Homo sapiens: one gene and its partners. The protein of the gene in region 2 interacts with the protein of the main gene of each other region in a pairwise test. Each region holds a gene or a part of one and is shown on either strand. Other genes may lie near its edges. The genes, in order: PKP1, GTF2IRD1 and ZC4H2.

What was found.
Region 1: the proteins of GTF2IRD1 (region 2) and PKP1 interact in a two-hybrid assay, tested with the Homo sapiens proteins (one study listed by BioGRID and IntAct).
Region 3: the proteins of GTF2IRD1 (region 2) and ZC4H2 interact in a two-hybrid assay, tested with the Homo sapiens proteins (one study listed by BioGRID and IntAct).

What each region holds. Positions count from the first base shown.
Region 1 is NC_000001.11:201,321,462-201,325,208, reverse strand, and holds part of PKP1 (plakophilin-1), read right to left. Parts: intron 3,232-3,747; coding exon 3,076-3,231; intron 2,197-3,075; coding exon 2,020-2,196; intron 782-2,019; coding exon 628-781; intron 269-627; coding exon 82-268; intron 1-81. UniProt on the Homo sapiens protein: A component of desmosome cell-cell junctions which are required for positive regulation of cellular adhesion.
Region 2 is NC_000007.14:74,512,804-74,516,550, reverse strand, and holds part of GTF2IRD1 (general transcription factor II-I repeat domain-containing protein 1), read right to left. Parts: intron 3,722-3,747; coding exon 3,580-3,721; intron 1,207-3,579; coding exon of another isoform or gene 1,111-1,206; coding exon 955-1,110; intron 1-954. UniProt on the Homo sapiens protein: May be a transcription regulator involved in cell-cycle progression and skeletal muscle differentiation. May repress GTF2I transcriptional functions, by preventing its nuclear residency, or by inhibiting its transcriptional activation.
Region 3 is NC_000023.11:64,920,821-64,924,567, forward strand, and holds part of ZC4H2 (zinc finger C4H2 domain-containing protein), read right to left. Parts: intron 1,424-3,747; exon of another isoform or gene 1,169-1,423; coding exon 997-1,168; intron 1-996. UniProt on the Homo sapiens protein: Plays a role in interneurons differentiation. Involved in neuronal development and in neuromuscular junction formation.

The DNA of each region.
Region 1 (3,747 bases), on a different chromosome or scaffold from region 2:
GCTGCGGGACTGCTTCCTGCTGTGCAGGGTGAGGAGGGGCTCTGATTGGGGTGCAGCCCGTGGGAGCAACCCCCCGCCCACCTGCTTCGGCACAGGTTGATGATGTTGTTGAGCATGCTGCTGGAGAAGTACTGCTTGGCCAGTTGTGGCTGCGAGGCCATCAGGTTCCTCACAGTGTAGCAGGCCGAGGACAAGATGTCTTCGGAGTTGCTGGTATTGCCAGTGTGGCTGGTGAGGAGCCTGGTCACCTCCGGGAACACCTGGTTCCCTGGGAGAGGAACGAGTTGGGGCACAGGGTCAGGATGACTGGGGAAGGAAGGGCTGAGGGGTTCCCTCTGGGGCCACACTCTTCGATAGCCTTCTGCCGGGCTCTGAGCCAGGTGGCCCTCAGGGCTTCCTGGCAGCTCCAACTCAGGGCTCAGAGACCCAGATAGGACTTTTGCAGATCTGCTCCCAGCCCTCAGGTGACAGGCTCCCTTCTCCTGTCTCCATACCTGTCTTTGGCCAGCTTCCTTTCTTGGAATGCTCATCCCAGGGAATGGCTTAAAGGATGACCTTCAAGCAGGCTTGAATTGTAGGGAGCCTGCCATGTCTTAGCTAGAGGGGGAGGAGAGAGAGGGACCTTACCCATCACTCTGTGCAGCAGAGGGTGGCGGGACATGTTGCTCAGGAGGGAGGCTCCGGACCGCACCACATCAGAGTTGCCAGATTGCAGGAGGCGGGCAATTTGTGGCAGGCCCTTTTCCTTCAGCCCAATCAACTGGCTCATGCCACTGGACATCTAAGAGAGAAGGAGTAGATGATGAGCTAGCCTGTGGCTTCCCAGGCACCATGGCAGGCAGAAAGGGGCAAGGAGCCCCAAAGGCAGACATCCCAGAACCCTTTCTCTTTCATATTGGAAGCACTAGCTCACATGTGGGCAACTACAGAAACCTAGGCTAACATGCACCTCCCCTTTCCCAGCCCTGATCCTGTCTCCTGGATCAGCCTGCAGCCCAGATGGGTGGAGAGAGGGAAGTCTCATTTCCCCTACTCATAGTGACCCAGAGTTAGCTTCCAGAGTAACCCAAGCGTCCAATGCTGCTCTCTCACCCCACTGTCTCAGCGCTGCCCCCATTACATCTCCCCACGCTATCTGCCCATGTGAAACTATATGGTCAAGGGTATTTGTCAATTAAACATCTGGCCATCTTCTTCCAACTTTCCTACCTCTTTAGAATCCAACACATATTTGTTGAGGGCTTGCCTGAGAAAAGAGGGCTAAGAAAGGGTCTGGGCCCACATGGAGAGAGAACTGGGGTCCCCTAGAGGTAGGCCAGTTCGCCCAGGCCTCTAAGCAACATAGCTATCCTGGGTGTAACAGGTCTAGGTGGGTTTGGCATTCTCAGAACTGCCCAGCCTCTCTCCTCACAGCCAGGGAAGTTCTCTGCCCTCGGTCTACTCTAGTGCTGCTGCTGCTCGGTTCCCTTTTCCTAAGTAAAGCTGAAGAACAGTTGGCCGCCTGGCCCATCTCAACTCTTCTTGATTGCAACAGGTTTCCTCTGGCTCTGCCCCATACCACTGTGCCCTCCAAGCTACATACATTTGGCCTCAACATCTGCACGGATTCTGTCACATCTTCTCTGGACCTGCTTGGACCCCAAACCCTCTTTTTCCACCTTTGTCAGTTCAACAAATGGGAAACTCCTTTTGCCAAACACCTTCTCCGCCGCATTCCCCGACCTCAAGCAGAGCCCAGGAGGCCAGCTGGGGACCGGGAGCCATGTGGCCAAGGGGATTGTGTGTGCATGGACAGAATCCAGCATCAGTGGGCCCACCCTCTCTGCATCCCCCAGCAGCTCCTAAAGGGCAGGAGTGTTTCCCCATTGCCCAGCCCAGAGCCCAGCATATGCCAGGCACACTCTGCTCATGGGAGGCTCCGAAGTCAGGGGACAGGCTGGGGGGAAAAGGAGGGAGCAGAGGCTGGACGGTGGCTGGAGGATGGGGCTGCTGCAGTAGAGAAGGTACAGTCCCACTCACCAGCCCCTTGCTGGCTGTCAGGTTCTGCAGGGCACCAGCACAGGCCTCCAGGGTAGCATCTTTCTTGCTCTTGCCCATGAGGTTCAGGTAGGTGCGGATGGCATCTGAATGGTACAACCAGCCGCTGCCCTTGGGGTTGGTCTCTTCCTCAGGCAGGGGGCAGTCATAGTTGTTGTTCTGAGGATAAAGAGCCGGTCAGGGGGGTCAATGGGGAGCCTTGTGAGAGGACACAACCCAGGCATTCTGTCCCCATCCCCCCAGCCTCAGGGTCGTGGTTCCAGATAGGGCAAGCTGAGGAAGCGCCTGCAGAGGCAGGGGGCCCAGGACAGCCCCGCTGCACCCCTTTCCTCTATGCACTGCAGCAGCTCCATGGGATGCAGGAATGGGCCATGGTCCCCCAGACTGTCCCAGGATGTGGGAGAAGAGAGCATCCTGGCATCTTGGGAGCTGTGTTCCAGGGCAGCCTTGGCCCAAACCTTCCAGATATGTGGGGCTGCTTTGGACTCTCCCATCATGATGCTTCCTCCTCTTCCAGACTCAGACAGTAGGTTTGACCCACCCTGGGCCAAAGAGGGTGGTCTGAGACCTGGATTCCACAGCTGGGCCCAGTGAAGGAGACCTGACAACCCATCCCTGGTAGGCTTCTGCTTCTGGGGAAACCTGGCAGGGCTCAGGAGATGGTGGGAACCAAGGCCAGAAAGAGTGAGAGTTCTGGCTTTCCTCAGATCCTCAAGGGCAAGGGAGAAGATGGGGGAGACTTGACCCACTATACAGGAAGAAAGACCAAGGCCTGCAAACAGAAGGCTGGAGTTTTTGACCTCTAAGGTGGTCTGAGCCCCTACAGTTCCAAGAACAGATTCCCCCTTGTGCAAGATGAATGGCCTCTACCCAGCTCCCAGAGTGCACCCTGAGCCCCAGGCCAAGGTGTCAGCATGGGCCTGTCCCTTAGGGCTGGCTTCAGGCTCCAGGAGGGCCCAGAGGAAAGGGCAGATGAGGCAGTGGCTCCTGGGGGGGTGCTTGATGGGGCAGGCCCCGCCCTGCTGATGCTGTGCTCACCATCATCTTGTCGCTCTTGTTGCTGAAGCAGCCAGTGGAGGACTTCTCGGTGTAGGCGTTGCGGGCGTTATACTCCAGCTGGCGGTAGCGGGTGGGCACCTCGGCGTCCAGGCGGTAGGAGAGGTTGTGCAGAACACACATGCAGTTTTCCACAGACTGGGGACCAAGGAGAGGCATGGGCCTGAGCCTCTGCCCGGCCCGACAGGCTCCTGGCCTACCACCTACCCTAGCTAATAAGAGAGCAGAGGCACCTGGGCTGCATCGGGAAAGATGAGCGCAGGCACCACCACACTATCAGCCTGGGAAGTCTTCCAGGGCCACCTCTGGGACCTGAGTTTGAATCTGTCATTTCCTGGCTGCATGAACTTGACTGGCCTCACTTCTCTGGGCCTCAGCTATCTCAAATGTAAAATGAGACTACAATTGTCCATTTCACTAGGCTATTTGGAAGATGATACAGAGAAAGCACTTATCACAGGGCCTAGTGTGTGGTAGGACTGCTATGGACAACATGCCAATGGGCAGACTGGGATATTGAAGAATGTGTCTTTTTTTTTTTCCAGAACAAACTCCTCCAGAAGAAGCCCCATGCCTCTAGATTCCAAAGCCATCTAGTGCCCCCATCATTCTTTCTTCCTGGGGCCAGTCCTTAGCTGTCAATGTCAGCGGTGC
Region 2 (3,747 bases):
GACCCTGAGCACCAAAGGGACCTGCCCGATGTTTCCCAGGGCGTGTGAAGACCACCACTGGGGCCCTGAGGCCCTCTGCAACCTGACGCTTCCCAAGGGAGGCCAGGTCTCCTCTTCCTGCAGGAAAGACATGGCTGAGCAATCAGCCTTCACTTAGTCATTCAACAAACATTCTCCAAGCACCTGCTGTTGCTGGGCTCTGAACTGTAGGCTGGAGACAGCTAGAAAGGGCAGACACAGCCCCTGACTCTGGAGAGCTCTTGGGCTGGAGAGGGGACAGGGCACTGTGGGTGCCAAGAGAGGGGCCTAAACCCACTGTGAGGGGGCTTCCAGGAGCAGAGCCTCAGTGCCACGCAGGTGTCTGCCAGACACAGGAGGGGAAAGGCAGTCTCAAAAGATGTAACAGCGCGAAGTCCAGGGCATGTGAAATGCACCAGCGAGTGCTGGAGAACTGGAAGTGGTTCTGTAGAGAGGTCAGTAGGGCCCTGTCACCTAGTGGGAGAAGAAGGTGTGGAGGGGATGAGGATGGGTGTGTGGGCCCCTGTGCCATGCTCAGGGTGATGGGGAGCCCCCGAAGGCTGTGGAGAGAAGAGCTTCATTAATGATCAGACTTGTGCTTTGAGAAGATACCCTTGGTTGCAGGGCAGGTGTAGAGAGCTGGTCTGGAAGCAGGGAGACCGTGGCAAGCCTGGGGCTATTTCTAGGCGAGAGGTGGCAGTGACTTGAGCCAGGGCAGGGACAGTAGGGGTGGAGGTTTGGAAAACGGCTGGAGCAGAACTTCTGTGTCTGGGAATGCAGAGATGAGGAAGGGCTGGGGTAGCCAGTAGCCCCATGCCTTGGGGTCCGGCTTTGCCCAGGGCCCATAGTGGGACAGGAGGGGGCCCCCTCTGCTGGGTGGGGACCGAGGCTCCCACCCTCCCTGGGGCCCCCAAATGGAATGAGGAAGGATCTTACTATAAAGAACATCAAACACCTCCTCTACCATCTTCCGCAGAAGGTACACATCTGAGCCATGTTCCAGGGAGGACCGAGGGAGGCTACGGCCTCCACCCTCGCCCCGCTGCACCTTCTTGGGGTGCTCTGCCTCCGGATCCTTCCACGGGGGCCCTCCTGTGGGACACAGAGCACGCGAGGCCACAGTGAGCACCCGTCTCACCACCCGGCCTTCGAGCTGGGATGTCGCTGCCCTGTGCTGAGCTGCGGAGACTGGCACACAATGTGATACACAAGTGAATGAATGAATGAAGAATTAATGAGTGAGCAAGCCCTATTCCAACCACCCCACTGAGGGCCAGGGCTGGTCATCTCAGAGTTCCCAGGGCTGGGCCTCACCTCTGGTCACCTCTAATTTGCTGTGTGACCTTGGGTTAGTCCCTTCTCTCTCTGAGCCTCAGTCTGTGAATGTTCACGGGAGGCCAGCTATTCCAGCTCAGAACTGAGGTTCGATGAATGTTCCATCTGTGTCTTTCTATTTTTTTTTTTTTTTTTTTTTTTGAGACAGAGTCTCGCTCTGTTGCCCAGGCTGGAGTGCAGTGGCACAAGCTTGGCTCACTACAACCTCCACCTCCAGGGTTCAAGTGATTCTCCTGCCTCAGCCTCCCGAGTAGCTGGGATTATAGGCGCCTGCCACCTTACCCAGCTAATTTTTGTATTTTTAGTAGAGATGGGGTCTCACCATGTTGGCCAGGCTGGTCTCGAACTCCTGACCAAAGTGCTGGGATTACAGGTGTGAGCTACCATGCCCGGCCCCATCCATGCCTTTCTGTGCTCTGACACGAACACTGTCTTGACCAATCTATGCCACCGTTTTCTGCTCTGCCGGAGGGAGAGAAAACCCTCCGGCAGAGGGTTGGGAGGCACCCCCCAACCCCTGCTCCAAGGAGGCCGTGGGTTGCAAACAGCAGGTTCATGCCAGGCTGGGCCAGGGTGGGGACCGGAGAGTGTTGGTGGATCCTTGGGGAATGTTCTAGAAGCTGCATTGGAAAGGAGATGAGAGGAGGGGCCTGCGGCCCCCTCCCAGCTTGGAGCCTATTCTCCTCTGGGATCTGCGGAGCTTGAAATAAACCAGCCGAGTTCCTGGTGCTATAAATAGCGGCTCTGCGTGGCTCTAGAAGGCAGGTGCACCGCCTCAGGCTCTGGGCGGCTGGGGTGCCACACGACCTGCTGCTGTCCATTCTACCCGGCCCAGTCCCCCATCCTGGCCCTGGAGAAGGTCTAGGCTCTGAGGGCTGAGGGGGGTGGGGGGCTGGCTGGGGATGCGGCTGCACCCCAGTAATGCTAGGCCCAGCGCTGGGGGATGCCCTTCCCTGAAACAGCTGATCTTAGGGGTGTGAGGTGAATACTAATAATAGTAACAACAGCTGGTGTCTATTGAGTGTGAACCAAGTGCCAGACACTGCCCTAAGTGCTTGCAAGGTACCAATTCGTTTAACCCTCAGACCCACCCGTCCTCCCCTTTCACAGATGAGTGGGTTGAGGCACAGCAGTTGTGGACCCAGGCGGCCCGTTCTCTTAACCTCATGCTATACCATGGTTCTTTTGAGATGGGGACTCACTGTCACCCAGGCTGGAGTGCAGGGGTGCCATCGTAGCTCACTGTAGTCTTGAACTCCCAGGCTCAAGTGATCCTCCTGCCTCAGCCTCTCAAGCAGCTGGGACTACAGGTGTACACCATCAAGCCTGGTTAATTTTTAAATTTTTTGTAGAGACAGAGGCCTTGCTATGTTGCCCAGCCTGGTCTCCAACTCCTGGGCTCAAGTGATCCTCCCATTTCAGCCTCCCGAAGTGCTAGGACTACAGACATGAGCCACTGCACCTGGCCTAAGATGTTAACCCTGACTATAGCCATGACAGTGCCTGCCCCCTCAGGTTGATGTCAGGGTAGGTGAGTTAGCATCAGAAAAGATGCTATGTACAGCAGGCATTCAATAAATCTTATTGGAACATGGCCAGGCATGGCGGCTCACATCTGTAATCCCAGCACTTTGGGAGGCTGAGGTGGGCGGGTCACCTGAGGTCAGGAGTTCGAGACCAGCCTGGCCAACAAGGTGAAACCCCGTCTCTACTAAAAATACAAAATTAGTTGGGCGTGGTGGTAGGTGCCTGTAATCCCAGCTGCTCGGGAAGCTGAGGCAGGAGAATCACTTGAACCTGGGAGGCAGAGGTTGCAGTGAGCCAAAATTGTGCCACTGCACTCCAGCCTGGGTGACAGGGCAAGACTCTGTCTCATTTAAAGAAAAAAAAAATTGTGTTGGCATAAGTGCATTTGGTCCTTGTGTTCAGGAATACATAGTTAAGAGGAAGAACTGAGCAGCAGCCTTGGCCTTGGTGTCCCCATCTGGAAAAGGCAGATGGAAGTGGCTGGCTCTGGCCTACCCTGGGGTTCACCCAGCCAGTCTCTATCAACTCAGGGGCTGCCTCAATAACACCACATCGGGAATCTCAGACAACCTAGCTTGTTAGGTTCACTCCCCACACACCGCCACCCTGGCTAGACAGGGTTGGGGACCCAGAGATGGGCTAGAGCGCCTGCCCTCGGGAAATGGCGGGCCCGGCCCTCCGGAGCCCTGGGGTACTCACGGCAGAACCTGAGGAAGTCTGACTGTAGCTCCTTCCGGGCATTCAGGAACATTCTCCCCTTCTCTGTGCCCACCACAAAGGCGCTCTCATCGTGCACGGCGACACAGGCCACCTCGGCGTTCAGTTTGGACAGCGCTGAGCACTGTGGGAAGGGCAGGCTGTGTGAGC
Region 3 (3,747 bases), on a different chromosome or scaffold from region 2:
CATACAAAATCAGAAAATCAGGGGTGGAGTCTAGCAATATGTGTCTTAGGCTCTCAAAGTGGCTTTGATGCATGCTCAAGTTTGAGATCCACTGGCTTATATTCTTAGCCCTTCTGGCAAATATCTTCCTCATTTAACTGGCCCTGTATCATTGGTTAGCTGGCAGCCAAACTGTCAACACTTTATGAGATCTAGAATTCTGCGATCTCTAACACAGAAAATCCCAATTGCTTACTGTCCAAACCTCATTCATATTTCCTTTATGATCCTAGGTCTGACAACATCAGAAAATGAGTATTGCCACAGAAATGAGTTTTCCAGAAATATAAACTTAGTTCCTTTGAAAGTAAATTTTAAAAATATATTCTTCATGGTTATGGGTGATAAGGGTTTGAAAAGACCTTACTGGTCAGCACTGCCAACCTCCTTCCTTGTGAAGGAATCATCAGTACAGTAGCTCATACAAGTGTCCATTAAGATGCTGCTTGAATAATTCCAAAGAGGGGAGCTTACCACCTTAGCAGACAGTTCATATTCTGTGTTCCAAGAGTTTCCAAAGGATATATCAATGAGGAAGCTCCACTTTGGTAGCAGGCAGAAATGATTTGTTTGGTCTGACTGAAAGCTTGGAGTGCTTTAAACTACATTCCAGAGGCAGCTGCCTGCTCTGCTTTTCCCCAAGGCTAGCTCTCAACTCCCAGAATCCCAGAATGAGAGCACATCAAATCAGTACATTTAGAGGGTACTGAGTCCCCCTTATAGTGCAGAGAGGGAAAATGAGGCCCAGAGAGAAGGGACTTGTCCAGTGATATATAGTCAGTTAGTGACAGAGCCAGGGCTGGATCTCAGAACTCCTGAATTCTTCTGCTCTACCACAGCCTGCACTGATGCCTGCTCCCCGAGCTAGGCCTAAGCCACATCTCAAGGAAAGGCCCTATCATTCACCACTACCTCTTTCTCAAAGGCTTTAGAGATAGGCTCCAGGCAGCCACGTACCACATTGATGTCAGCGTGGATCAGTCGGAGTTCCTCCACATGGGCCATCTTCTCCTGTAGCAGAAGGTCCATCTCCTGCTTGTATTCCTTCAGGTGCCTTTCCTCTGACTCAAGTGCCTCAAACTCAGCCTTCAAACGAGCCTTGATCTTCTCCATCTGCAGGGTCTTGTTCCTGCAATTTGCAAAAAGCAGGAAACAGGCCAGCAAAAGAAGGGAGAAAATAGAAATGGAGCCAGGACTTTTTTTCTAAGCCATCTTTACAAGCTTCCCCCTCTCCAGGCAGAGCCAACCTGAGGCCATCTCAAAAAAGAAGGCCAGGTGCAATGGCTCATGCCAGTAATCTCAGCAATTTGGAAGACAGAGGCAGGAGGATCACTTGAGCCCAGGAGTTTGAAACCAGCATGGGCAACATAGTGAGACCTTATATCTACAAAAAAAAAAAAGAAAAAGAAAAAAGAAAAAAAAAAGAAAAAGAAAAAGAAAAAGAAAGAAAGAAAGAAAGAATTAGCCACACATGGTGGTACATGCCAGTAGTCTCAACTACTCAGGAGGATAAGGCAGGAGGATTGCTTAAGCTATGATTGCACTACTGCACTCCAACCTAGGTGACAGAGCAAGACCTTGTCTCAAGAAAAAGTTAGGAGATGTTTCCCTCTAAAAGCTCAGTGGGTCTCGAATGGGGTTAATTTTGTTCCCTTATGGGGCATTTGCAAATATGGAGTGTTTTGGCTGTTAGATTGACTCAAGGAAATGTGTTACTGGCATTTAGTGGACATGGGCCAGAGATGCTAAATAGCCTCTCAATGCCCAGGAAAGTCCTGAACACAAAGAACTCCCACCCAAGAAACCAAAAATGATCTCTTGAGAAACTCTAAGTAAGCACTGTCCAATAAACTTACTACAGTGATGGAAATGTTTTGTATCTGTGCTGTCCAGTATAATAGCCACTATGCACATATGGCTACTGAGCACTTGTGATGTGGCCAGTGCTACTGAGGAACTGAGTTTTGAATTTTATTTAATCAAACTTAAAATTTAAACAGCCACGTGTGGCTACTGGCTGTCATATTAGACAGCACAACTCTAGAGGGTGTGTTTATCAGTTCCAGAAAAGGAAGGGGAAAGGATATTATGGGTAATTTCTTTCTTAGAAAAAGAAAAACCTGGTTTTGGTCATTAAATCCCAATTGTATACCGTGTGGCTCAGGAATCCTATACTTGGGAATATATTTTAAGGAGGTAATTCAAGGAAGCAAAAAGTTAATACACAGAGGTGTACTTTCTGGGCTTTCAGCAAAATTAGGATATTTGACAGCCACTGAAGACTTGTGACATAGAAAATGTTGAAGATAAGATACTCGCTGAAAAAGTGTACACACTAAGATTACAATTTCAAAACATACATGGATGTGACTAAATAAGAAAAAGATTTGGAAGAAACACAGTTTCAAGGGCCTTTAATAACATAATTTGAAGCCTGCCTCTGGGAAAGGGCTACAAAGTTTTGAAAGGGGTACCCTCTAAGGCATGTTGTTGTCTTCCCACTGGCTCCCTACCATGCTTCTCAGGATCTGCCTAGCCATTATCCCCTTACTCAGATTTGTAGTCTCCTTTCTTCTCCCTCAGTAGCTGATCTTCCCCTCTGCCCCAGTCTATCCTATGGGTGATCCAACTCCACACACTGGACTCTGGCTTCTGCCATCAGCCTGCTTGTCTTCAGTCTCTCTTTTCTTGACATTGCCTGTGCCTCTTGCCTCAAGAGGTAGCCTTCAATGGCACAGAACTACAGAAAGAACTGTTAGGTGGGTAGGATGGTGGGAGAAGTTTCTCTTTCTATACTAAGAAAACATCTTTTCATGTTATTGTATTTTTTTTTTTTTTGTAACCTTAGAAATGGGTTAAAAGGTGGGTGTTATCCCATTTGTAGAGAAGGGAATTGAGTGAGGTTCAGGGTGGTAACTTGCCCAGTACCACAGAGCTAGTAAATTGGATGTTGGGATTTGAACCAGGGCTCTCTAACACCAAAGCCTACATACCATCCATACCATCCACTACTCTATATTGCCTTTGAACAGGGTTACCAGGCTGAAGGGCATAAAAACATCAAGGGTTCTTGTTATAGCTCATCAACTGTCTTGCAGAGGGAAGATACTGATTTGTATTGGTTAATTACTTATTTGCTTATATCCCCATCTATCTAGACTTCTATTCTCCTCCTTTTCTAGGTTACGTGAAGATAAACCTGAACTTTGCCTGCTCCTGTAACCATTTTACCGATGGGAAAACTAAGATTCAGAGTAGTATAGTGTCTCACCCTAAGTGTCATACAACCAGTTAGGGCAGTGCTGGGCCAAGAACCTATTTCTGCAGACAAAGTCATATCATAAAAGAAGCATGCGCTTTAGACTCAGACTTCAATTATAAATCCTGGTTCTGCCTCTGATTAACTATTTGCTTTTGGACAATAATAACAACTGTATTTTAACTATATTTATTGAGCACTTACTATGTATTAATTATAGAGGGTTTCAATATATATTCAGTCAATAATTATTTATTGAATACTTATCATGTGCCAGGCATTCATTGTACTAGGTACTAGGGATAGAGCAGAGAACAAGACAGTATATAGACAGCAAGTTTCATCTAATGAAGAAAATCGATCCTGAACACAAGGTTGTATGTAAAATCATATTAGTGGTAGGGAGGAGATGCAGAATGTGATAGAAGGATACAACAAAGGGACCTAAC